4 linked regions of the Homo sapiens genome follow. The protein of the gene in region 3 purifies or fractionates together with the protein of the main gene of each other region. This does not show direct contact. Each region holds a gene or a part of one and is shown on either strand. Other genes may lie near its edges. The genes, in order: GSE1, SUDS3, HDAC2 and SP1.

Region 1 (6,877 bases), on a different chromosome or scaffold from region 3:
CCAGAAAAGTGGGAGGCACCAGCTCCTGCCCCTCAGCTCGGGGCTCCGAGCCCAAAGGCCCCCCAGTCCGCCTCCTTCAGAGCAGGGGAGGACAGACAGTACCTGCTCCAGGGGCTCAAGGGGAATTTGGGACTCCAGGGGTTGGAAGGGGGGAATCTCTAGCTCAGAGGTGCAGGACCCCGGTCTGCCACAGAGTGGCGCTGTGCAGACTTGGCTCTTCCTGGGGCCGGCGATGCTGAGCCCACAGGCAGGCTTGGCTTCTGCTCTGAAACCACAAGGCACTCAGATCTGCAGCCCCTGAACTTCCCCCAGAGACAGGGAAGTGACTGCTGGAGGGGAGGGCTCATCGGGGCCATCGGAGGAGGCTTCCTGCTGTGAGCGCGGTGTCCGCCCCACGCCTGGCCCCAAGCCTCAGTTTGCCCCTTGTTCCTACCCCCAGTGTGTACGTTAGGATCAGCTGGGGAGCTCTGACAACCCCCAGACCCGGGTCAGGAACCCAGAGGCTGTGGCTTAACTGGGCTTGGAAAGGCCTGGCCAGCAGCAGTTTTAAAACACCGAGTTTGGAGATGTACAAGCCCCTTTGAACTCTGACACTCCAAGATCCTAAAAACTGTCCCAAACAGCTCAGAGCCTGCGCCACAGTGGACACCTTGTTGCCTTCCTTGTTTTGAGCTCAGCCTCACTGTGCCTAGAACTAGGACTTCCCGACCTCCCTTCCCAAGGCAGGGCTGACCCTAGGTCACCGGAGGCTCCTGGCGGGCTCTCACCAGCTCTGGCCCGGCACCGCCCCCAAGGCTCCAGGAAAGAAAACTCCAAGCGTCAAAACCGTGGTTGGCTCCAGCTTCCCCAGCTTCCCCTCCTGACTTTGGTGTCTGCTGCCAGAGTGACAAAAGCCATCCTCGCACCCGGCCCGCAGGAGATCAGGAACGCTGCCGACACGGGGCTGGCTGTCTCGGAAAGTCTCTTAGGAAGCACCGAGGTCGCTGCTCTCGCAGGCCAGGGCCTCTTCCAGCGCTCCTGAATCTACCTGGGCGGGGCGACTCCCTGCACAGCCGGCGGCCGGGATGACACACTTCGCCGTCGGAGCCTGCGCCCTGGGCCCCTCACCTGTGGCGTGGCGGCTGAGTCAGGCACAGCCTGTGCCTCAGGTTCTGCCGTCCCTGCTGGTGGAGGCGGCCGTAAACACAGGGTGAGCAACACTGAAGTGCCCCAAGCTTAAGCAACACCGAGGGAGGCCAGGGAAGGCTGCTCACCTGGGTTCCCCCTTCCACCCCTGCCGGGAGGCGGGAGCACGGAATCCCAGAGGAGAGGACGAGACGGCCGACCAGGGGGCACATTTCACAACGCCCCCACCAAGACCTTCTCTCTGCCCCTTTGTCCCCCGCCGCCTGGAAATCGGCTTAGGCGGGTTCGCTTCCACCCGGAGTGCGGCTGGGCCTTTTGTTCAGGCGCCTTTTACAAAAGGAGCCCTCTTTCCATTTGGTGGCCCCGCTTTTTGTTTCCAAACCCCAACCTGTGTGGCCGCTACCCCTCAGGCCCCAGATAAGGCACCGCAGCGGGGAGCAAGGGTTTAGTGTGTTTTAAACGCACTTTGTACAAAGGCTAGTTTGTAAGAGCCAAACCGACTCAACTCCGGCTGGCATCCACCGCCCAGCTGGGAACCCGGCAGGTGCTCCCCCACCGCCAGCACGCTGCCCTCGGAACTCAGACGGGCACTGCGGCCAGGCCCCCGGCCCACCACGTGGAAAGGGCGCAGCCTCCACTCCCCCATCTAATGAGGGTGTCGCGGTGTCCCTTCCCCCCATCTGGGAACCCCCTCCCTATGGCCTGCGCCTCGAGTCTCCACCGCACATTTCTAAGTGCCCCCCTGGTCCCCCACCCGGCGCTGGGGAGGGGAGGCGGAAAGCTGGGGGTGGGCGGGCGCAGGGAGGGTGAGCTCCACTCCCGCTCCGCCTCCATGAAGGGAATTTAATTAGCCTGCTAGAGAGGCGGGCGGGCGGCCGAGGAGGTGTCTCTGGTGCTGCAATATAATTGAATCGGCTCCACTCGGTCGGGCCACTCGCCGCCCATCAGCGCGGCCGCAGGGCCCGGGAGGGCTGGGGGCGGGGAGGCGCATCCAGGCGGAGCAGGAAGGGCCGGGGAGGGAAAAAGGCCAGTGCGGGTGGGGGGCGGCGGATGTGCAATCCCTCTCCCACCTCCGAGGCTGGGGCAGCCATCTTCTGCGGGGGGGAGGGGAGGGGCAGGGAGCCGCTCCGCCGGGGGTGGGGGGAGAGAGAGGAGAGAAGCGGCCGAGCCCGGGGCGCGCCCTTCCTCGGGAAGCAGGGCGTGGGGGTCACAAACCCGGCAGGCTGCGGTCCCGCCCTCCCGACCAACTCCCCCGAGACAAGGGGTCGGGGAGGGGGAGGGGAGCAAGACAAGAACCCTAACCGGCGCGGCCCCAGTAGCGAGCACCCCCCCCCCCCACACCCCCGCTTCCTCGGCCGTCGCCAGCACCTGCCGCGGGGGCGCACAGCCACCCCCATTCGCTCCCTCCCGCGTCGCCGCAAAGTTTTCATTCCAGCTCTCCAGCGCCCGCAGCTCTCGGAGACTCCCCCCGCCACCCCCATCCCCCCACTTTACCTGCCCTCTAGCCCGCACGCACTTAAACGCACCCCCCCCATCCCCCGCTGAGCGCACTCCTGAGCCCGGAGCCCCCGAGTCCCCGCCCGCAGCCAGGCCTCCCAGGCTGCGACCCGCGGGCGGAGGAAGGGGGTGGCCTTTGGTCGCCTGCCCGCCCTCCCGGCTCTTATCGCCGCTAACACTCCGGGGAAGTTGCCCGGGAGCCGTTGGCGGCCGCCCCCGCGAAACCCGCGAACTTGCAGGAGGACAGTGCGGTGGGGGGAGGGGGGAGGACCCCGTCCCCGGCCGGGTGCGGCGCGCTCACCTTTCATGCCAGGGCCCCGCAGCTCCACCTCGGCTGATACATGCTGGAGCCACCGTCGCCCAGTGTTTGTCTAAACTGCTTATCTCACCCGGGGCTGCTCGGCGGCGGCAGCTCGGGCCCGCTGGGGAGGTGGAGCTTCCGGGGCCCCGGCCAAGAAACACCTGCTGCTGTCGCCGCCGAGGACACACCCAAACGCAACGCCGCCCACTCCCGGGCCACTGGCTCGCTCCCGGCTCCCTGACCTCAGCCAGCGGGAGGTGTCGGGTTTCAGCCGCAAACACACAGGCGCGCGCGCGCGCACCGACGGGCGCCCGGATCCACCCGCCCAGGCACACGCCCCTCCCCGGCCCGGCCGGCCAGGTGAGCCGGGGACACCAGCGGGGCCGCGGAGGTGCCACCCCCACACTCTCGGGAGCCCCTGGCTGGACTGCTCGGGGGTCCCGGGGACCTTGGTGGCTAAGACCGGCCACTTAACTCTTAAAGTAGTGCAGCACCCTCGCCACGTGAGCGGAGCCCTGTCTCGCAGCTGCGTCCCGGGAACCTAGAACAGTGCCTGACACAGAGCAGGCCCAATAATGGGCGGACGGGTAACTCCGTGTCCTGGAGGCCTTTTGGAGAACAACTTTCTGGGCGCTGGTGGCGCGTGGGGTGGGGGGAGGCGACACAAAACAGACTGTGTACCCAAGCCCCACCCCCCCCATGCCTGACCTTATTACCCCAACTAGAAAAGGCTGAATACTAAGAACTTGGCCTCAAAATTCCATAAGGCACCCCACCCCCCAGTTTTAAGTAACTTTTGGGAAGGCCACAATTGCGGGCCGCTGCGGGGGGTGTTCTTTAAAGAACCCGCGGCCCAGGGGCTGGAGAACCCACGGAGGCGCCGCTTCGCCAGGGGGATCATTAAGTAGCTGGGGTTGCGGTCAGAGGCGAGGTCGCCCGCCTCCAGAAACTGGCACGACCCATTGCGCTTCTGGCCCCAGCGCAGCGCCTCCCCATTCCTGGCACCCCCCACCCTACCTCACCCAGGCACTTGACTGGAATGACTCAGGGAGCGTCCTGAAATTCCTGGGCACCCACAGGCGGCGCGGAGAGGGACTGAAGGCCCCAGCCTTCCCACCCCCCGGCTCCGCCCACCCCGCCCCGCCCCGCCCCGCCCCCACCCCATCGCGGCGGGCGCGTCCCCAGGAAGCTCGGGGTTAAAGGGGCGGGCCTCGGGGGCAGGGGTCGGCGAGCCTCCCCTGCCGCCTTCTGGCGCCCTGGGCTGTAACCCCCCCGGGCGGCTCTGAGGCCCCGGGGTCGCTCCCTCCTCATCCTCTTCCAACACCCCTCTGATCTAGCGCGTCCCTACTTCTGAGCCCTGGGGCAAACCAGCACCCCCTGGGCGGCCGCCCCAGCGCTGCGCTGCGGTGCGGGTTTCGACTTTCAGCCCCCTCGTGCCAGCCCCAAACCTGCCCCGGGACATGCCCGCGCCAGGCTTGGCAGGCGCGCACGCTGCCGTCCCCGCGAGCCCGCCTCCCCCGCCTTCCTCCCTCCCCCTCCCCGCGCCAGCCCGGATTGCGACGGGAGCGAGCGCTGGGCGCCTGCCACCCCCCATCCATCTGTTCCCGATGACGCTGGCGGGCCTAGAGCGTTCGGGGCCCGCGCCAGCGGGGAGCAGAACCAGCCTGTGTGCCCTCCGGGGGGCAGGGTCTGGCGGGCTCCCTCAGGCCCCACGCTCCCCGCTCGACCTCCGACCGAGCGCGCGCCGGGGCCCGGAGGTGGGGGCGCACGCGGGCCGGCCCCCCGCCTTGCACAAGGCTCCGGGCAGACCACAAACGAAAAGGGAAACGGACCGGCGAGGCCGGGTCGGGCCGTTACTGGCTCCTACCTGCGGACGCTGGCCGGCCCTGGCACGGCGCGGGGGTGCTGCTTCCCCGCACGACCCGCCAGCTCACCGGCGGCGCCCCCCTTGCGGCCTTGGCCGGACGCTATAATTTACGCACCACACGGTGGCTCGGCCGCGCGGGCCCGGGTAATTTATACCCGCACTGGCCGGCGGATTCACCCGGCCCCAGGCGGCCAGGGCTGGGAGGGGGAGGGGGAGGGGGAGGGGCGCCTCCACCCCCACTGGGAGTCACGGGCGGGGGGAGGGGAGGATAGGGAGGTGTTAGGAAGGAATGGACGACGACTGGCCCCGAGCCTTAAAAACAAAATTCACCTCCGGGACTGGCCCAACCCCTTTCCCACCTGGATTACAAGCTGCGGGGGGAGGGGAACAGCATGCAAATGAACCTCTCGCACCTGGCCGGGTAGACACCTAGGCCCCACCTCCAGGTCTCTCACCCGGACACGGTGCCACCACCTACTCCCTTCTTCCTTGGAGAGGCCCTTGGGCCAGGGGTGAAGGTGGGGTTAGGTTTCTCCACCTGTTTGAGCAGGACCACGACGGCCAACCACAAAAACGTGTGGAGTGGCCACTGGGAGGTGCATCACTCGGCTTTTTAGAGCCGGCCAATCCCTCCGGCGTATACATCTAGCTCCCCTGGATTGCGAGATGGGTGGTCTGGTCCCGTTTCACAGATGAGGAAGTTGAGGCCCTGAGTTGCTCAAGATCATGTGCACACAGGTGACATGCAAGCTGCGCCCCAAACTGCTCACACCTGGAAGTCACTCCCCTTCCCAACCCAGTAGGCCTAGGGGAGCGAGGCGCTGCCGGACACCCCGGCAACCGCCGGGGGGCAGCAGCGAGCCGCTCTGTGAGTCCTGGCCGGGAAACGCTGGCGGCCACCAGGCGGGCTGGCAAGGGGGAGATGGATGACACTCACTGTCAGTGCGCCCGGCCCCCGGAAATTAGTAATCCGGAGCACGGCCTCCGAGTTTAAGGGTGGGAATTGCTCTCCTGCAGCCGGCGCGCTCCTCGCTAACGAGGTTTGTCGCTTGACTCCTAATTTCCCAGCACTGGGGCTAAGGCTGGCCTCCCTCCATTTCCCTCCAGGCCTGCTCCTCCTCCTCTCTCTTCCTAAGCAGCGCCCTACCCACAGCCCCGCGCCCCCAGATAGTGCGAGCCCTTCCTGGGCACAGCTCTCTTTCCCTGGACCTCCTTCCCACCCTCCACTCCCATTTGCCTGGAAGGAGCTAGGTAGGTGCCAGGGCCAGGCCTACGGAGGCACCTCCCAGAGCAGGACACCTGCCCTGGGGATGCTGCACGCGGTGCTCCTTACCACGGACTGTGCTTTGTGCCAAGGCAACAGGATGCTGGTGCCTGGTGCGCGTTTGCTCACACCCTGAGGCCCCTGCCAAGCTAAACTGTGCCTCCAAGAGCGGAAGGCAGGCTCCCAGCCCCTCACCTGCCTCAGGTACCTGCTTCAGTGACACCTAGGTGCAAACTCTAGCCCTACCTCCACAAGCCCTGGAACCTATTAGACCTGCACCACAAAAGAGATTTAAAATTTAAAAGCTTTCCTAAGGGCATGGTAGCTCACGCCTGTAATCCCAGCACTTTGGGGGGGCCAAGATAGGCATATTGCTTGAGATCAGGAGTTCGAGACCGGCCTGGACAACATGGCAAAACCCTGTCTCTATTAAAAACAAAAAAAAATTAGCCCTGCATGGTGGCGTGTGCCTGTAGTCCCATCTACTTGGGAAAGTGAGGTAGGAGGATCCCTTGAGCCCAGGAGGCAGAGGTCGCAGTGAGCTGAGATTGTGCCACTACACTCTAGCCTGGGCGACAGAGTGAGACCCTGTTTCAAAGGAGGAAAAAAAAAAGAAAGCTTTCCATCTCAGATGAACATGAGACACCTTAAACCTACTCCCTGAGCTCAGGAACTAAGAGGGGTGTCTGGAGACGGGAGTCCTAGGAGGATCCACCAGAAAGAAAGGGACGCCTTGAACCACAGAGGGTGGGCGGTTTTTCACTCAACAAACACACTAAACCCTGGGCTGTGTTTCACACTTGGTTTTCCAGAAACAAAACTG
Region 2 (6,997 bases), on a different chromosome or scaffold from region 3:
AGGATACACGGTTGTCCCTCAGTATCCGTGGGGGAGTGGTTACTGCACCTCCCGTGGATACCAAAATCCTCAGCTGCTCAAGTCTCTGACAAAATGGCATAGTATTTGCATATAACCTACGCACATCTTCCAGTATACTTTTCTTTTTAATGAGACACAGTCTCACTCTGTCGCCCAGGCTGGAGTGCAGTGGCACAATCTCGGCTCACTGCAACCTCCACCTCCTGGGTTCAAGCGATTCTCCTGCCTCAGCTTCCCAAATAGCTGGGATTACAGGGGTGCACCACCACACCCGGCTACTTTTTGTATTTTTAGTAGAGATGAGGTTTCGCCACGTTGGCCAGGCTGGTCTCGAACTCCTGGCCTCAAGTGAACCACCTGCTTTCGCATTCCAAAGTGCTGGGATTACAGGCATGAGCCACTGCACCAGGCCAACAGTACACTTTAAATCATCTCTAGATTACTTAGAATATCCAGGCCAGGCATGGCAGCTCATGTCTGTAATCCCAGCACTTTGGAAGGCCAAAGCAGGAGAATCACCTGAGGACAGGAGTTCCAGACCAGCCTGGCCAACGTGGTGAAACCCCATCTCTACTAAAAACACAAAAATTAGGGCCAGGTGCAGTGGCTCACGCCTGTAATCCCAGCACTTTGGGAGGCAAAGGCAGGTGGATCACCTGAGGTCGGGAGTTCGAGACCAGCCTGACCAGCATGGAGAAACCACGTCTCTACTAAAAATACAAAATTAGCTGGGGGTGGCGGCACATGCCTGTAATCCCAGCTACTCAGGAGGCTGAGGCAGGAGAATTGCTTGAACTCGGGAGGCAGAGGTTGTGGTGAGCCGAGATCGCGCCATTGCACTCCACCCTGGGCAACAAGAGTGAAACTCCATCTCAAAAAAAAATAAAATAAACAAAACAACAAATAAAACCACAAAAATTAGCCAGGCATGGTGGCAGGTGCCAGTAATCCCAACTACTCCGGAGACTGAGGCAGGAGAACTGCTTGAACCCAGGAGATGGAAGTTGCAGTGAGCTGAGATCGTGACACTGCACACCAGCCTGGGTGAGTGAGTGAGACCCCATCTTAAAAAAAAAAAAAAAAAGATTACTTACAATATCCAATAAAATGTAAATACTATGTAAGTAGTTGTTACGCTACACTGTTTAGGAATAACAAAAAAAAAGTCTGCACATGTTCAGTACAGATCCAATTTTTTTCCTGAATATTTTTGAGCTGCGCTTGGTTGAATTCACAGATGCAGAACCCACAGATACGCAGAGCCAACTGTATACAATAAAAAAGGGGAATCTGACACAAATAAATATTTTCCAAGTTACAACTAAAGGGAACAAGGAGGAGGCCAGATGATCAAACGAAAACTGTTTCAGAACATCTTAAACATTGTTCTTAGAACAAGCTAATGGCTGGGGTGTGTACAAAATTTTAATAGCCCCTATACTGGAAGGAAAAAAAAACTCAATTTTGGCTCCACAGCGCCCCCTCGTGGGTATGAGATGAAGTGCAAGTGCTTCACATTCAAAATCTCTGGTTAAGCCGTGTCTTCTGATGGAATTAAATCGAATGCAGTCCCTCAACTTTGTATGTCATGCATATGCAGCTGTCTTTTGTAAGGCTGTTGCAGATCCAATTCCCCACAAACCCTTCTCCCCTCCTTCAGTCAAGAGGCCTTCCCTGAGTTCCTGTCATGGTCAGCCACATTACTTGGCACTCGGGAAACTCAGATGAATAAAACGTAGGCCCCATTCCAAACAGCTGGTCTAGCTTTTGCTCCACGGCCCGATTTTGTCCCAGAATATTCCGCTCATATATCGGTCTCTCTTTGTTTCCTATTTCTCCTCCCTTGATCTCTCACATTTCATCACCTTCCTCCTCCTCCATCCCTCCAAAATAGCGTTCCTCACACTTGCCAAATTATAAAGCCCAGTTTGAAAAGCAAGGCTCTGAGACTCTGTGATGACAGTGCAAAGAGCGTGGGACTGAAAACACAACACCTGGGGACCATTAAGCAAATCTCTCCCTCTCTTACCTGTTTCCGGGAGGGGGGCGGGTGGGGAGAACATTTACGGAGTATTTACAGTACCAGGCCAAGTACTTTATGCGCATGTCATTTAATCCCTATACCGACCCTAGGAAGTGCCTTCTAGGGCAGGTGTGGGAATTAAACAGCTCCATTACAGTTGGGTAAATCGAGGCTGGAAAACTTAAGTTTACAAAGCTGAGTTAAGTGACAAAGCCAAATTTAAACCTGTATCTGGCTGGTTCTAGGTCCCTTTCCTTTAACCAACCTGAGTTCTCAATAGTGTACTACCTAAAGTATAGATGACTTATGCATTTCGGGGGTGGGGAGGGGCAACTTTGGACTCTGATGCTCTCACACACAAAAAAGGGGCGAACTACACTCGATGTATTCAGTAAATGAGTTTCTAATTCCTACTAGTGAGTGAGGTTCAATCAGAAACGGCTGGGAGGGAGGACGGGGTCTTAAAGGGACCCCCAGCGTGACAACATCTAAGTCCCCTCTCCCCATCACGGTCGAGTGTAACGCACCCAGGGCTTCCCCGCTACTCCAGCACGGATGGGGGTAACTTCCCCGAGCCCCGCAACTCCCGGCGGCCCCTCCACGCAGCCCCAGGCCCCGGAGGCCGCCCCGCCCCTCTCCCGAACAGCCCCACCCCCTCCCCCAGCGGTCCCACCTCCGCTCCGGGCGGCCGGGCGAGCGGCAGGACTCACCTTCGTCCGACTCGCGGCCCCGACAGCTGCGCTCGTCGTCCTCGGCGCTCTCCAGCTCTTCATCCTCCTCGGGGTAGTACTCGGGGGCCGGCGGCGCTCCAGCCTGGGCCGGGGCCGGGGCCAGCAGCCCCGCGGCACTCATGTCGCCTCTGACCGCAGCTGAGCGTGGCCCACGGACACCGCGGCCACCCGCGCTCGGTACTCGCCGTCTGCCTAGCAGTGTCCGCGGCAGCCCCCAACTCGAGGACCGGCAGCCACGGCGACCCCTTCCCCGTCTCCGCCGAGCTCCGCCCCCCGCGCCCGCGCTCGGCAACGGGGGCCTCGCGCCGCGAGCGACTTCCGGGTCGAGAGCTGCCCGACAACGGCCTGATTCCGCCATCCTTGGGGGAGTGGAGATGCCGCTGGACGCCCCCGTCGCCACAACCTCAGCCCTTTCATCGCCGTCTTAAAATCCTCAACGTATAGTGGGGGAGGGGCGGAGCCAGGTTCGCTAGAGTCAGGCAAATCTACGGGCAGGCCCAGCAGCGGTCAGGACCCCGAGGCTCGCAGGCGACTTCCGGAGACAGCCGCCAGGCGGCGCCTGGAGCTAGAACTAAAGCGGTGATCGTTAGCGACCTAGGGGCGGAGGGTTTGAAGGGCCCTTGGCAGGTGGAGGTGGTCTCTAATTTAAGCAGGGAACGACGCGACCTGCCCCCTTATTAGGTCGGAAAACCTAGACGTCCAGAGTGTGCGTGATCATGCAGCCTGGCTCCTCCTGTGACTAGTTAGAGCTTTATTAAGAGCTAAAAGACAAGGATGCTGATATTCCATCCTGGGGACAGCAAAATAGTATTTTCCCAGCCCTTAGGAATCCTTTCTGTTTGTGTAAGGTTTATTCGGTAAGATGTTCCCCCGGTTTTACAAATGAGAAACGAGCTGTCGTTTGCCTAAAAAAAAATAGTAACGTCCAGTCTGATTTTTTAGACTCCGAGACCCAGGCCCTCCGCGGTACAGCTGCCTTGAATATTAATTTTTTAAAAGGTGCTTTTGCTTAATCCAACAGCTTGCTCTGAGCTCTCAACTGAAGAAGGGGAGAATTTGCCTACCAGAAGTTATTTGGCTAAGGCCCACGTGGAAGCTTAAAAAACAGGAGAGCTGAGTATCTGCAAGAATTAATTTGTGCGATTCCCTCTGAGTAGAAAAGGAACACGGTGTTATAAGTTTTGCTGAACGAATAGATTTAAGGTGTCCCTTTAGCTAAGAGCAATGTGGTCTAGTTGTGTGTAGCGAGAAAAAAGGGTAAGGTTTTTAATGGTTTGTCCAAAGTAGCCCCACTTTTATGTTCCACCCGAGTCTCCGTAGGAAACGCAACCAGTAGTGAAAATGAACAGATGTGAAAACCAGGGTGGAACCGAATATTCCCATTCTCAGACCTTTTGTGATTAAATTTATCTCTGAATTGTTCCCTATGGACTCTTCTGAAAATGAAACGTTATTCTCATCCCACTTATTTTGACATTTATTTACTACCTTGTTTTAATTAAAATCTTGGCTCTATTTGTAAGTGATTTTTTCTCCCAACAAAACTAAAGAATTTCCAGAATGGAATGCTAAGATGTCTTTCCAGGAGTTCTGAGATCTTCTGAAGCCCCTTCTAAATAAGAATCATTCTCAGATCGCACCGTAGGTCTGCCATCTATATTTAAACTAGGATTCCAGAACTGTCTCTTGTCCAAAAGATGAAGTCATTTTCTTTCTTTGTGCTGTTGGAGAACATCTAAATTACTTGCAATCAACTATATTGAGTAACTTGCGTTCCTGTCAGTAGCAGTAATCATAGTGCAGAAAAAGCAAAGATTTTAGAAATCAAGAGTTCATTGATACAATTAATTTTTAAGTTTATTTCGTTGCTAAATGGTTTCCTTTCAAGACGCTGAGATTTTTATCCTGCTTATGTTTTACTGCTGTCTTCTTGACTGCAAACAGCATCTGTTAATGGTCATGCATTTCTTTTTTATATGTAATGAATAGACACAACTGAGCACTTGGGTTATGAAAACTTACCCCATTTTTTTCTGTCCAGATTGCCAGCTGCAGAACTAAAAAATGCTCTTTAGTGAAGGTGGACCTACTCAAAAAAATTCTCTTATGGCTTTAGTCTTACCTAACCTTTAGATTTATTTAATATGATTTTGGACAGTCGCTATACTCCTGTAAAAATCAAGTTCCCTCAAAACCAAGTTTTACCACCTTGAAATCTTTTTATATATCCCTTCTCAAAACGGTACTCAGCCACACCGCTCAGGAACTCGACTTGACTTGAAACGAAGCCCTGCCAGCCCCATTTCCACAACTTCTTTGCTTCCAGGCCTTCTCTGCCTACCCTAACACCCAAACTGAAACTTTAAAGGGGGACATCACAATTGGAATGGAGTATGATTCTTTTTTTTCTTTTTCTTTTTTTCTTTTTTTGAGACGGAGTTTTGCTCTTTCACCCAGGCTGGAGTGAAGTGATGCGATCTCGACTCACTGCAACCTCCGCCTCCGGGTTCAAGTGATTCTCCTGCCTCAGCCTTTCTAGTAGCTGGGATTACAGGTGGGTGCCACCATGCCCGGCTAATTTTTGTATTTTTCGTACAGACGGGATTTCACCATGTTGGCCAGGCAGGTCTGGAACCCTTGACCTCAGGTGATGAATGGCGTATGATTCTTAAAACACTAGAAGAAACATGTATACTGTTTAGAACACAAACACATTTTGTCAGCTGGAGTTAAAAAGTTAACAATCGAGGGTTCTCTGAGAACTAAGGCCTGTATACATCTGACAAAACTTAGGATCAAAATGTGTTCCTGAGACAATTTCTTCATAAAATGCTAAATTCTAAAGTCCATAAACTTACTTTTGGCGTTAAGAGTAAGGAAAGCAGTTTTCTGTTTCCGGTGTTGATTTGATCAGCATATCCAGTTTCACAAAAATAACACAAATGGGTCTTAGTAGCATGATGCACTTTCACCCCTGGCAGGCACTATCCTTTAGCGTGGATCAAGAGGAGTCTCTGATTATCACATGTTAAACCTGGGTCAAAGCTCGTTATCCTTTGGCCACACGTTCACATAGAATCATTAAAACCTGTGGCCCTGGAAAAAGGTTATATTGAATAGCTTTGCTGAAACCTTGTTAAGCTAATAATAGGGTTCCCCTACCACAGTCTTCCTACTGTCATAAAAACCTACAAACTGAAAATTTCTAAAGCTTTGTCCTTGCACCTATCAAAATGTGCCCCGCATTGAACGCTTAGTTGGGCAAAGTATGCACCTAGTACTGTATATAGATTTTTTTTCCCCCAACGGTATCAAACTGACGGCTGCTGAACTCAATTCAAGGAGAGGCAACTCCCTTGCAAGAGATTTTAAAAAGAAATGGTTTAAATCCAGGAAATTTTTACAAATCCTGGGCAAATTAATGCTATATTAGTTCATGGCAGAATTACTAAGAAAGCTGTGCAAGGTCTAGCGAGAGACTGGGGTCCTCCCCAAAGGCTCTAACATGGTGGTCCCTGGGAATCTCCCAAGAAAAGTAAAGGCGTGGGGAGAAGCGCCATGAACTTTGACCGGAGAGCAGCACAAACAAGACTGACCGCACCCCAGGCGGGCCCGTAGGTTACTAAAGTTGCAAGGTCTTCCGCGTCTGAGGAGACCCCGCCCTGCCCTGTCCCGCCCATCGACAACTCCGCCAATCCTCGGGTTCCATCGACCGCTCGGCTTCCCAGGCTCCATCAATCAAATACCTATATACGGCCCCGGCCCTGTGCCCCGCGATCAGGGAAGGTCAGTAGAGAGCCTATTGGAGCCGAGCTTGGGGCGTGGTCCGGGGCAGGGGGCGGGCGGACTGAGACGGTGGGGCGGGGCGTGCTCGGCGCAGTCCGGTGCGATTGGCCACCCCTGGCAGGAGCCGCACCTCGGACAGCAGCAGCGGCGGCGGCCGCGGGAGGGTCCTTGTGGCGCCGGGCGGCGGGGTCCTGCGTGGAGAGTGGGACGCAACGCCGAGACCGCGAGCAGAGGCTGCGCACAGCCGGATCCGGCACTCAGCGACCGGACCCAAGGATCCGCCGGGGAACAAGCCACAGGAGAGCGACTCAGGAACAAGTGTGGGAGAGGAAGCGGCGGCGGCGGCGCCGGGCCCGGGGGTGGTGACAGCAGGTCTGAGGTGAGAGCACCGGGGCGCGGGGCATGACAGTGGGAGCCGAGGCGGCGGGACCCCAGG
Region 3 (7,039 bases):
TAGGCTTCCTGGGGCTGTTAGGCACACGGAGCCTCTTGGCCACACAGAATGTCTGCCACTGAGGCTGTTTGCATCTTAATGAAAGAACTTTTAAATATATACATATTGTTCTCTGCACGTTATGTAATCTTCAGGTAACCCTTTAGGTCACTGAAACGTTGGTCCCAAGGGAACCTTCAGACATTGATGGATTAGGTATCCTTAAACCTTTGAAGAAAAGTAAGAGAAGTTATTACTTCTCTGACTGTAGCTATTGATCCATGCCTCCAAATTCCCAAAAACATACTTCTGAATCATGTTCCTTCTTTATACACTAGAAGATCATCAAGAATCTGTAAAATGATACAGCTAATTAGATAGTCACTAAGATCCCTTCTGGGCCTTAAAACGATGTGATTTTTCTCTACTTAAATATAATTAGCAGCTAAGCTGTGTTAGGCTCTAGTTATACCACTCACATTTTTAATACTGTATCTAGACATGTTTATGCTTTGTTTTGAATTAATCTTGAGGCCAAACATATTTAGTGCTTGTTTTTATGGTGTATACAGTATAATAGGGTTTATATACCTAATTTATGTAACTATACACAAATTTCTCTGTGCTCTATTTTTTCCTCCTCTGAGAGGGATGCATAATCAGTTTTGGAGACAAGTGGTCCAGAAAAAAACACTCAAAGACTGTATACAGATAAAACTATATAAATACAAAAGTTATCAAGATTAGGCCAGGTGTGGTGGCTCATGCCTATAATCTCAGCACTTTGGGAGACTGAGGCAGGCAAATCACCTGAGGTCGGGAGTTTGAGAAGAGCCTGGCCAACATGGCGAAACCCCGTCTCTACTAAAAATACAAAAATTAGCCAGGCGTGGTGGCAGGCACCAGTAGTCCCAGTTACTCGGGAGGCTGAGGCAGGAGAATGGCTTGAACCCAGGAGGTGCAGGTTGCAGTGAGCCAAGATAGTGCCATGGGCAACAAGAGCGAAACTCCGTCTCAAAAAAAAAAGTTACCAAGATGATACCTCCCAACGTACTCCTTCTTCAGCAAATTATAGAAATTCTACTTGGCAGCCAACGATTGTCAGATTTTCTTAGACTTGTATTTATGAGTAGTACCAAAGTCTTTTGCTGAATAACCTTTAATACAACTACATGGGTTCTTAGCTGTGGTATAAATCTTTATTATCCGTGAAATAGGTAATAATTTCTTTGGAGGCAAATAAGTGCTAAATTAATTATAGCAGCAGTTCATAAATACCAGTAATACTAATTGCACAATAAAACATGACTAAATAAGACTGAAATTTTCCTATACTTCTCTTTCCCCAGAAATCTTTTGCCTCTCTTTTCTTTCAAATTTTACCTCATCAGAGATGCTTTCTCCTATTACCTAAGTCCCTGTTATTGCCTTATTTTTCTTCCTTTTGGTTGTACCATATAACTTTTGTCTCTCTCCTCACTATAACATAAGCTTCATTAGGACAGTCTGTCTGTTTTGCTTGTGTTTGTATCTTCGCCAACTACATTTAAAAACGTAGCTTTTTTTTTTAATTAGTGATGAATAAATTATTAATTCCTTATACTTTTTTTTTTTTTTTGAGATGGAATTTTGCTCTTATTGCCCAGGCTGGAGTGCAGTGGCGTGATCCCAGCTCACTGCAACCTCCACTACCCTCCCGGGTTCAAGTGATTCTCTTGCCTCAGCCTCCCAAGTAGTTGAGATTACAGGCACGTGCCACCACCCCTGGCTAATTTTTGTATTTTTTAGTAGAGATGGGGGTTTTACCATGTTGGCCAGGCTGGTCTCGAACTCCTGACCTGGGGTGATCCACCCACCTCAGCCTCCCTAAGTGCTGGGATTACAGGCGTGAGCCACTGTGCCTGGCCAATTCCTTATTCTTATAGATAGAACGCTTTCATATAACGTTCCCTCTAATTCTTGAAACTACTCTGAACTACATTTAGGTAGGATGGGTGGCATTTTGGCATTTTTGGTATTGTTTAGATGAAAACAGATTCACATTTGTTTGGTGCAGTCTACCACTTTTCCTTTTCCACACTGACTGTAGTTTTAATGTTCAAGGAGAGTTCAACATCCGGAATCTTTATTTTTCTTTTTTCCTTTTCAAAGTGTTTCCTCTGCTACCAAACAAACAAAACTCCTTAACAAAAACTTTAAATGCTTCTGTTGACAAGTCCTTAAAGGAAAACACTTGGGATTGGAGAAGGCATCTCTTAGGGAATGTTAATAAATTCAAACTTGGAAGAATTCAAATCAAGTCTAAGGATTTTTTTGTACTGGTTATTAAGCCTTATTCCTCTGTATTTCAGTAGCAGTCTGCTTATTGTTACTTGTTCATTAAGCCAGCTTTGGGTTCAGACATATCAAATAGGCTTAAAGTTCCTACTGTGTGCCAAATAGACAAAAGATTGCTCAAGTCCTAAGAAGGAAATAAAAGACTGCAGGTATAAAGTAAGAGAGGGGGCCGGGTGCAGTGGCTCACGCCTATAATCCCAGCACTTTGGGAAGCCGAGGCGGGCAGATCACAAGGTCAGGAGTTTGAGACCAGCCTGGCCAACATGGCGAAACCCTCTCTCTACTAAAAATACAAAAAAAAGTTAGCTGGGCATGGTGACGGGTGCCTGTAATCCCAGCTACTTGGGAGGCTGAGGCAGGAGAATCGCTTGAACCCGGGAGGCAGAGAGGTTGCAGTGAGCCGAGATCATGCCATTGCACTCCAGCCTGGGTGGGTGGCAAGAGCAAGACTCTGTCTCAAAAAAAAAAACAAAAAAAGTAAAAGAGAGGGGACCTTTGATAGTGTAATCAGAAAAGGGAAGACCTGAAGGAAGAGAATGGGCCAGCCTTAAAAAGAGTTTACTACATAAGATATTACAAATAGCAAAGCCAGATAGTTATTAATAGAACTTGGTGCACTTAATGGGAAGGAAGACAAGGAAAATGTGGAGTCCCATGTTAGGCAGTAAAAAGTGGGACTGCACAAAACTGTGTAGTAAGAAATTTGACTTTACCCAGAGGTGGAAAGCCATTGAAAGTTTCTCAAATAGAATGCATTCTCTCAAAATAATTGGTAAGGAGTTGTGGAATATAGGCTGGAAGCAAGAATTGAACACATATTGGTCCATATAAAATGTAATGGTTGCATTTTAGATAGAAATAGACATATTTAAGAGAGATTTGGGCCTCAAACCAATAGAACTTTTTGATGGATTAGAAATGGAGTTGGAGCTGAGGAATGGTGTTAGAGAATGAAGGATGACTCCTAAGTTTCTGGATTGAGCAGTTAGGTGGTATGTGGTACTACTCACTAAGATTGGGAATACAAATAAAGAGCTCTGTTTTGAACATCTTATATTTGAGATCCTTATTGAATTCAAGTGAAAAGACTGAGAAGAGAGTTAACCTCTGTGAGTTTATAATCCAGAGAGGAGAGTCTAGACATAGAAATTTGGGATTTCTCAGCTTATATCAGGTGAAGTATTGAGACTGAAAAAGATACAGCATAGACAGACGACTGGTCCCAGGACTTAACTCCCGAGAGAAGAGAATTTAGGGCAGAACTATTGTTCACTGATGAACCCAAACCCTTAGAACAGTACCTGCTTGGCACATGGTAGGCTCTTGATTTATTAAATGAATGGCTGAACTGAAAACCCTTGATGTTTAAAGGTTGGTGGAGGAGTGGCCTTGGGGTACAAGTAAAATCCCAAGAAAATGGTATTATGGAAGCCAAGGCTCCGAATGTCTCAAGGAGGAATAACCTCCTTGAAATATGTATTAAAGATGTGTTAATATGTATAAAAAATGGATAGTGGGCTAAGTAGTCTGGAAGATGAAAATAATAAACTTTTTTCTTTTCTCTTGTTTTTTTTTTCCTGAGTCTCTTTTTGCAGTCAACTTATCTTTGTGGCTAAAGGTACATTTCACAGTTCTGAAATCCAAAATGACCTGAAAATTGAAAAAAATTTTGGTAACTCATTTGGAATCAAAATCTTAACCTGAATCAATGTGAGGCTATTTATGATCTTTATTCCTCTGTGAATACCGTGAATATTCACACTTTTTTGCTGTAGAAATATTAATGTTTGATTATATCATGCCACCCAAACTCTAGGCTATTACATAATATATGGCAGGTGTACCATATTATCTCTACAAAATCTGAAAAAGTGTAAAATTTGAAACATATCTAATTTGAAGGAATATGGATAAGAGATTGTGGACCTTAGTAGACACTTCCATTCTGTTAGTTTCTTGAAGAGTGAGCAATTTGTAAAATTTTGCAGATAAATAATTCTTTACAGTAATTTCTTTGCATTGACAATTAAAGTTTGTTGTGTTCAAGGAACCACCTTGAGCTGATTTTTCTGAATGTTTATTTCATTGGTAAAGTATTTTTATGTACAGGTTGAATATCCTTTATCTGAATTCTTGGGACCAGAAGTATTTCAGATTTGGGGAGGTTTTGCAATATTTGTAATTATTTACCAGTTAGCATCCCTAATTCGAAAATCAAAAATTTGACATGCTCCAGTTAGCATTTCCTTGACTATTAAGTTGGTGCTCAAAACAGTTCAGATTTTGGAACATTTTGGATATCAAATTTTTGGATTAGGGATAATCTGTATTTTGATGCAAATCAGTAACATTTAAAATGCCCAAATTATTAATACATTACTGACCATTTAAATGATGAATAAAAATTGTAGGGTCTTAAAACTTCTTAGCCTTTTTATACTTTATGAAAAAGTGGGCTGGGCACAGTGGCTCACATCTGTAATCCCAGCACTTTGGGAGGCTGAGGCGGGCAGATCATCTGAGGTCAGGAGTTTGAGACAAGCCTGGCAAATATGGAGATACCCCGTCACTACTAAAAATACAAAAATTAGCCGGGTATGGTGGTGGGCGCTTGTAATCCCAGCTACTTGGGAGGCTGAGGCAGGAGAATTGCTTGAACCCCAGAGGTGGAGGTTGCAGTGAGCCAAGATCACATCACCGCACTCCAGCCTGGGTGACAAGAGCGAAACTCCATCTCAAAAAGAAAACAAAGTGGATGCCTACAAAGTAGCCATCTAGAGAATTGTGAGATACAGAATTAGTGGGAAAAAGTTGGAGATGGTTATTTTATAACGCCTTTATATTTTAGAAGAATTCTTTTTTTTTTTTTTTTTTGATACAGAGTCTCGCTCTGTCACCCAGGCTGGAGTGCAGTGGCACGATCTCGGCTCACTGCAACCTCCGCCTCCTGGGTTCAAGTGATTCTCCTGCCTCAGCCTCCTGAGCAGCTGGGACTACAGGCGCATGCCACCACACCTGGCTTTTTTTTTTGTATTTTTAGTAGAGACGGGGTTTCACAATGTTTGTCAGGAAGGTCTCGATCTCTTGACTTCGTGATCTGCCCGCCTCGGCCTCCCGAAGTACTGGGATTACGGGTGTGAGCCTCCACGCCCAGCTAGAAGAATTCTTGGTAAACCAAAAAATTATCTGTAGCTTGGCTGCCCTGTATACATGTATCATTTAGGTTCTTTGTGTATTCTTTGTGGGACTGGGGTCCCTAAATTTCAACAGAGAAACTTGTTGAAAGCTATGCGTATTCGTATACGATTTGAGGACCCTATTAGTAAAAAGTAAATTACTCTGATATATTAGGTACAGTTTCTTGTGTTCATTTTCTTTAAATTAACCAAGACCCTAAGCCTTTATTTAAAATATTTATATTTCATATTATGTCTTTTTTTCAGCCTTCACCCTGCCATTTCTAGTGAATCTGTAAGTGTCCTTGACATTCCCTGTTGTTATTACTTAAGAACATTAGCTGTGAGCTGCCCTGCCAGAGTTTGAATCTAGCTCCTCCACTTGCTGGCTATGTGACTTAGGCAATAATACCTGACTTGTCTGTTTCTCATCCTTCTTTACTATTATACAATAGGAATAATGTAATAATACCCACATCATAAGGTTATTGACAAGATTAAAAGATATGTGAAGTACTTAATAGTGCCTTCTAGTAAGCACTCAACAAGTGTTAATTACTGCTTTTTTTTTTTTTCAAACACACTTGCTCAGAAATTGCTACTGTAGTCTCCAATTATTGGGGCCTGGGGCTTTTCACTGGATTTTCAGTGTGCATCAAATAACTAGAGTATTTGATGTTATGATGTGGTAGATGTTAGAGACATTTCATTTGGGTAATTGTTACACAGAGGCAGATAGATGGAAGTTATTGTTTAGTTTGTGTCTTTTCTGTTTTAGGTGATATTGGAAATTATTATGGGCAGGGTCATCCCACGAAACCTCATAGAATCTGCATTTCTAGTGAAGACTAGACTTTCATTATTTTTACTTTAATGATTTCTTTAGTAGTGATAACTAAGAAATGCCTTCCCTTGTATTAATTTAATTACATGATGCTTTGTAATAACACTAGTGGGTTTTCCATATCTAAGAAATGATGAGACCAGGCTGCTTTCAAGGAACTATATATCCCTTGTATTGTCACCATGTAAGGTAGAGCTTTATGGTAGATTCTTTCTTAATAGGTAGTTTATTTTCTGCAATCATAGCCTCTTAATTATAATTGCAGAGGAATGTTGCAAAGGGCCATGGCCCTGCTTTGCTAAACTCTATATTGTTTCTTAGCCTTGTTGGCACCTGCATTAAAAAGGTGGCTTTCCCTTTAAAAGACTTTGTATATGAATTGTTTTCAGAAGAGAGCTGTGCTGAAAATGAAGTTAACTAAAATTAGAGGTGTGATACCAACAAAATCAAGTATTTATGTTATTAGAAGCATGGATTTTGTAAAAGCTGATTGTTTATCCCGTACTGTTATCAAATATGTAGGAGAGAGGACAAAAAAGTTTTTGGGGTTGTTTCCATTAAACAAACAAAAGGTGTATTTAGGGAGGACTTTGAAAGATTTAGTGGATAAATTGCATTTTTTATTCTAGCTTTTATTGTAATATATAAACCCGTGTTGAAATGATAGACTTCAAACCATTAAAATAGCTTGACTGTCCTGACC
Region 4 (5,810 bases), on a different chromosome or scaffold from region 3:
TTTTTTGTATTTTTAGTAGACAGTTTCACCGTGTTAGCCAGGATGGTCTCGATCTCCTGACCTCGTGATCCACCCACCTCAGCCTCCCAAAGTGCTGGGATTACAAGCGTGAGCCACCACACCTGGCCACGATGTCAGTTTCTTAATTTTGACAATGTACCATGGTAATATGTTAACAATGAGGGAAACGGGTAAGGATTATATGGAAACTCTGTTCTAGCTTTACAACTTTTCTGTAAATCTAAAATTATTCCAAAATAAAAAAGCATATGAGAAAAAAAATAAAGTTAGTGTTGCCTGTTTGTCTTGGTCCTCCACATTTCCGTGTAGTTGTGGCACATTGATCTGGTCATGAAACCATTTACCCGGGAGTTAAATATAGGGCAATTGCACTAATTAACATGTATGGAGCACAACACAGTGTAGCTGGAAACCTTTGTTAGGTTCAGAGTATGAAGTTACAAACGTACACTCTCACCATTCCCAACCCTCTTCAATACACCAGAGACATGGTTTTTTATTAAAAAACTTTTTAATTGGTTTACAAAGGAGGCTACAGACTACATTGAAACTAATCTTTGTACAAAAGGCCAAAAAAAAAAAAAAAAAAGTCCCAAAACACCAAGAGACAAAAGGTAGGAGGAAAGACAAGAAAGGAAGATACAAAAGGAGCAGGAAGAAACTTACTTAGGGACAAGATTAGCATCATACATACCTAAGAGTGGGGGGTGAGGGGGAAGAACAAGATGAGAGAGCATTTAAAAGCATTTACCCACACAGCCCTGGTGATAATTGGATTGGAATCAAAACAAACACAGCATGAGATTATTAAGAGGTTTTAAAAGGCAACAGTGGTGTGGACTGGTTATTGCCAGTGTTAAGAGAGAAATAAACTTGGGTTTTTAGGCACCAGAGATTGGAGCACCACCCATCCCTTCCAGAGGATGACAGACTTAGGAAGGGGAAGCAGGCCCTGGGGCAGCTGCCACTGGTGTGTGTAGATGTCTCCTCAGGTCAATCTCAGTGTATCTTCCCCGAAGTCTTTGTGCCCTAGACTCTAGGTAAGGGCTATGGGATTTCACTGGGAGAAAGGGATGATCAAAAATATGAAGACCTGCCCTTGTCCACAATGTTCAAGAGCAGTTACCGGGAAACTGGAGCACTGGGTAGACAGAGCCCATATCCCTGGGGAAAAGGCACAGTGTAATTCCTGAAGGCAAGATATGGGAAAGCACACATCCCAGCAGAGGTATCAACAAAATCCTCACTACTTGCAGCCCTAGTCTAATCCCATTTGTTAGGCTTTTTTTTTTTTTTTTTCCCCTGATACTTAGCTAGGACTTAGGGCAGTTGAGAGGCAGATCATCATGCCTCTACTTTCTTAGCAGAGACAAGGAAGACTGGGGCTGTTTGATAATGAGGAAGGGGAAAATGGGACAAAATACTCCTCTTTCAAATGAACACTGTGGAGAAAATCTTTCTGGGTTTGGGGAAGTCAGAGTAAAGACTTAGGGGAGTAATAAAGCCAGAGACCCCCCTTCTTTTCCTTTCCCTGCCTTGGATCTAAGGCAAGTGAGCCAAATTTGGAAGAGGGAGTAGGAATTTAAGCTTAAGGCTGCTTAATGTCTTCCTGGGGGCTGGTGTTTTGGGAAGGCAGACAAAGAGAAACAGGTCAACCTCAAAGCTGGTCTGCTCATCCTCTTAGAAGAGGTCTGGTATCTGTGGAGTAGAGCCAAGAGAGGCACCACAGAGAGCACAGTCTCCCAAACAGAAGTAATAACCGGCTCATATTTTATCAGCAGTTTTCAAAAGCAATGTTTTCCGGGGTTGGAGAAGTGCCATATCTTCCTCCCTTTCCCCAAAGCTACTGCTGCGACCTTTCTTTCATCCTTGTACATAAGTTACTGGCTCTCTTCTAAGGGAGATAAATTCTGAGATTTCACATTTTCCCTCTCAACCCCAATAGGCTACCCAGCTTCAGTGAGGGGGAAGGAGAGCTATGCAAAGGGCCCCTCACTTGAGGCAGCTAGACTGTCCTTATTTCCTTGGTACCTGATCTCCAAAACTCTTGATCTGATCCCAAGGTCCAAAAGGCATCAGGGTACTTACACTGAAAACTTCAAGCAAGTAGCACCAGGGCTCCCCCTAAGCATAACAGGGGCCTGATTAGCACCCCAGAAGAACCCCTCAAAAAGTATATAAATTTATTGCGTCCTAGCAAAGATCTGCAGCTTCCAGTATTCACACAATGTGAAGATATTAACAATACAAAATATATTTTGAAAGTCAAACACCTGTAGTTCATAGTGCTTTTTTAGATTTGTTAAAAAAAATACAATGCTTAGTTTCCTATATAGGATATACAAAAGCAAAAAATATATATGTATATAGTAGAAATAAATCAGCCATAGTAATTTACAGCTTTTGTCTCCAACCCTCCCCTAATCATAATCTTTATCCCACACTTCAGTATATACTTTCTGGGATCAAAGGATCAATTTATTCTGAACCAGGCTGAGAAATATCCATTAAATTGCATTCTGTGTAGCACCCACAGAGTGCCAGTTGGAAATCCCTGAAGGAAGACGGTGTGGGTTGTTACTGTTCTGGGTAAAAAGTGAGACAGTCAAATGACATGTAAATGAATATAAATGGGCAACCTGAAAACCTGAAAGGATGAGGGAATAAGTGTTTTACTATCTCACCACTCTTCTGGGCATCCCCTGCCCTGCAAGTTTTGGTCATCTAAAAAATTTAAAAAACTCATTCAAAAAAATGAAAAAAACTTAGGAAAAAAATTTCAGAATCAATATGCATGTCAGTTAAATTAATTTCTGTTAGCCAAAAGTTCAGGGAAACGGGGTTTTTCTGTAATAAGCTCCTGACTCAAGGAATGTAGGCTCCAAACTTCCTGTGGAAGAGACTGAGTGGCTCACTACTGCTGGGAGACAAAAGAAGCTGCTTCTGTTTTGAGGCCAAACAAGATACTGGATCTGGAGCTTCCTTGGTGTGAAGAGAACAGGGCAAGTGGAAATAATTAGATATAAATTCACTCATGGTAATGCTAATGAATAGGGTTGAGGGTAAACCAGCAGCTTTTCATTCGAGAAAGAAATACCATCAAATTACCTTCTAAAAGCTTATATCCTCAGCATCATTACATTATTTTATATCTGGTAATTTCATACTGGAGAAGATTCCATTCCTTGAAATGCACTAGCAAAATACTGTACATTCCAGTGAGTTATCCTGCCCCTTTCCTCCAAAAGATGCCAAAGTACATGATTACAGACATAAAATAACAGGTTCTGAGTTCTGCCTTTCAGTGAGAATAAAGGGTATGATAGTGGCTGTGCATGGATGACTTGTATCTCAGCGTTAATAGAATTTGATCTGGGGAAAGTTCCTTGCCATAGTTCCTGAGTTGAAAACATAATTACATCTGTGGAGAAAGGACCAAATGGAGTGAACTATTGTTTAGAGTATTAAGTTACTATAGTTCAGATTAAACAACACACTTACCCAAAACTTAATTTGGATGGATTTTATATAAAATATATAATAGAATCATACCATCATCTATTTGTAGCCAAAGTAAAAAGATTTATGAGAAGAATAAGGACTCTGCTATAGATCTGGATGTTGGTTTCACTTTCAAACACAAAAATAGTTTCTTTTTAAAAAAGTACAGTAGAATATCCTCCATTCATAATTGTAATTAATTTAGCATAAGCAAAGAAATGACCTTAGGAACATACCCAGGTTTTAAGATAGATTTCTAGGTAATGGGCCTGAAAGGCATTTTGATCTGAATTTATTTTCCAACGATTTCAAATATAATTTGTCATCTGTGTGTAGACATATACGGGCATGAACACACATTCACCCACACATACAAAAACACTTGCTTTCTATCAGATCAGGGTAATTTTTTTATTGCAGGTCTCTTTTAATATTGGCTAGCAGAAAACCTATCCCCAACCTAACAGATTACACACACACACACACACACACACACACACACACACAGAGCTATTTTTCCACACTTCCTCACAGTGAAAAGCTCTCTAACAAGATACCAGAAGGTCGAGAGAGACAATGCTTTTATGGCTGGGCCTTGAGGACAATTCTGGTTGCATTTAAATCTCAGTGCCAAATGCACTAGGTTCCCTGCCGTTATAATTTTTGGATCAGTCTCTTCTGAAATCAGGTCACAGAGAAAACAGGATGATTTCTCCCAATCTCTCCTATAAAACACTGTGGTAAGACAAGATTTCTTTTTGTTCTGGGCTATCATTCCCATGATCATGTGCTTCCCTTTCCCTTAGGAACCACCCAAGAACATACAAGGAAAAGTTAAGGGAAAACATCATAAGAACCACTGTCTTGCCACTAGCACATGCTTTGGAGGAGTTCTGCAGAATGGAAACCTGAAACAGATTCACTGGCTGATGCTCCTTATTGACAATGGAAAAGAACCTAGTGGGGATGTTCAAAAGAAGTGTATTTCCTTTCAGAATATAAACTCAGAAGCCCACACATCAAAACTTAGAGCTACCTTGGAAGACAGCAGTACCAAAGTCCAAATACTCCACTAACTCCTGAACCTGACTACGAGTCATTTCCTCTTCTGAGCACATGATTTTCCTAGTGAAAGCCCCCTACCTATTATTTGAAAATTTGACAGTTTATACAAACTGAGCCAAGATTATTATCTTCAAAGGGACTCTTGTACAATTCCACTGAAAGACTTCTAATTCTTGATGCTCAGAGCAGCTAATGAAGGGAGATGCCTTTGACTCTCCAGCGCCAAGAAGGTGCCTGCGTCAGTAGTATTTTGAACACTCCCTCCACAGTTACTTCAAGCATCAGCCTGGGCTTCAAGGATTTTTCCATTCTGCTGCTGGAACTAAGGTCCTGAAAAAATTGACAGAAGTGCCTCATCCAGGCAGTAACAAAAACAAAACATGAAGTGATCAGATGAGAGAAGATGAGACGGCAACAGTTGAGTTAGGGAAGGAGTGCAAGAAGCTGATCCCAAACAAAAAGACAAAATTAAGAAAGGAAAAACATTATGTATGTATATATGAACTAAAAGCAGAGCATATGAACGCTTAAGCTGGTGGGAAGCCAAGACAACATCTACAGAAAAGCTTGATGTGTCACAACAAGGCTCAGCCATAGGGAAATAAGGCAATATAAAAAAAATGACCAAGGTATTTTGGTCACAGAATGGTCTTCCTCCTCCCAGCCAACCCCTGTGAATGCATCTCTATATATCTTTATATATATATATATATATATAATAATATAGAATCTGTTTTTTGTTAAAAAGTATTTCAATGATCATATATATTTATCAAGGCATGATGGCTTTAGGAAAGGGGGGGGAATCCATCATGGAAGAGCTGAGAAGAGAAATGCAGGAAGGGTAGGCTGGGGTAAGAAGTGTAAGAAGAAACTGGGGTCAAACAAATGCTCATCAAAGCGTGGCACCAACAGAATTTTCACTAATGTTTCCCACCTTCAAAGAGGCACTGATGATACAGATGGGTGCCGGGACCCCATCTCCTCTCTTGTATCCCTCTCCTGATTCTTCTCAACACCATGCATTTTAATGCTTCATGGCTCTCTCTTCCATGTCTCTTGGACCCATGCTACCTTGCATCCCGGGGTTAAGGGGTATGGCCCATATGTCTCTGGCCCCGGGTGCCTGATCTCAGAAGCCATTGCCACTGATATTAATGGACTGCAGATCTGCCACCTGCATGACGTTGATGCCACTGTTGGCAAGACGGGCAATGCCCTCT

Evidence for each region.
Region 1: the proteins of HDAC2 (region 3) and GSE1 purify together in Homo sapiens (affinity purification with mass spectrometry; 5 studies listed by BioGRID and IntAct, with this or other methods). This does not show direct contact.
Region 2: the proteins of HDAC2 (region 3) and SUDS3 purify together in Homo sapiens (affinity purification with mass spectrometry; 5 studies listed by BioGRID and IntAct, with this or other methods). This does not show direct contact.
Region 4: the proteins of HDAC2 (region 3) and SP1 purify together in Homo sapiens (affinity purification with western blotting; 11 studies listed by BioGRID and IntAct, with this or other methods). This does not show direct contact.

Annotation. Positions count from the first base shown.
Region 1 is NC_000016.10:85,609,445-85,616,321, reverse strand, and holds the start of GSE1 (genetic suppressor element 1), read right to left. Parts: upstream 3,001-6,877; 5' UTR 2,931-3,000; coding exon 2,924-2,930; exon of another isoform or gene 2,494-2,923; intron 792-2,493; exon of another isoform or gene 768-791; intron 749-767; exon of another isoform or gene 1-748.
Region 2 is NC_000012.12:118,372,591-118,379,587, reverse strand, and holds the start of SUDS3 (sin3 histone deacetylase corepressor complex component SDS3), read right to left. Parts: upstream 3,034-6,997; 5' UTR 2,897-3,033; coding exon 2,755-2,896; intron 1-2,754.
Region 3 is NC_000006.12:113,961,115-113,968,153, reverse strand, and holds part of HDAC2 (histone deacetylase 2), read left to right. Parts: intron 1-5,759; exon of another isoform or gene 5,760-5,787; intron 5,788-7,039. UniProt on the Homo sapiens protein: Histone deacetylase that catalyzes the deacetylation of lysine residues on the N-terminal part of the core histones (H2A, H2B, H3 and H4).
Region 4 is NC_000012.12:53,411,150-53,416,959, reverse strand, and holds the end of SP1 (transcription factor Sp1), read right to left. Parts: coding exon 5,720-5,810; 3' UTR 514-5,719; downstream 1-513. UniProt on the Homo sapiens protein: Transcription factor that can activate or repress transcription in response to physiological and pathological stimuli.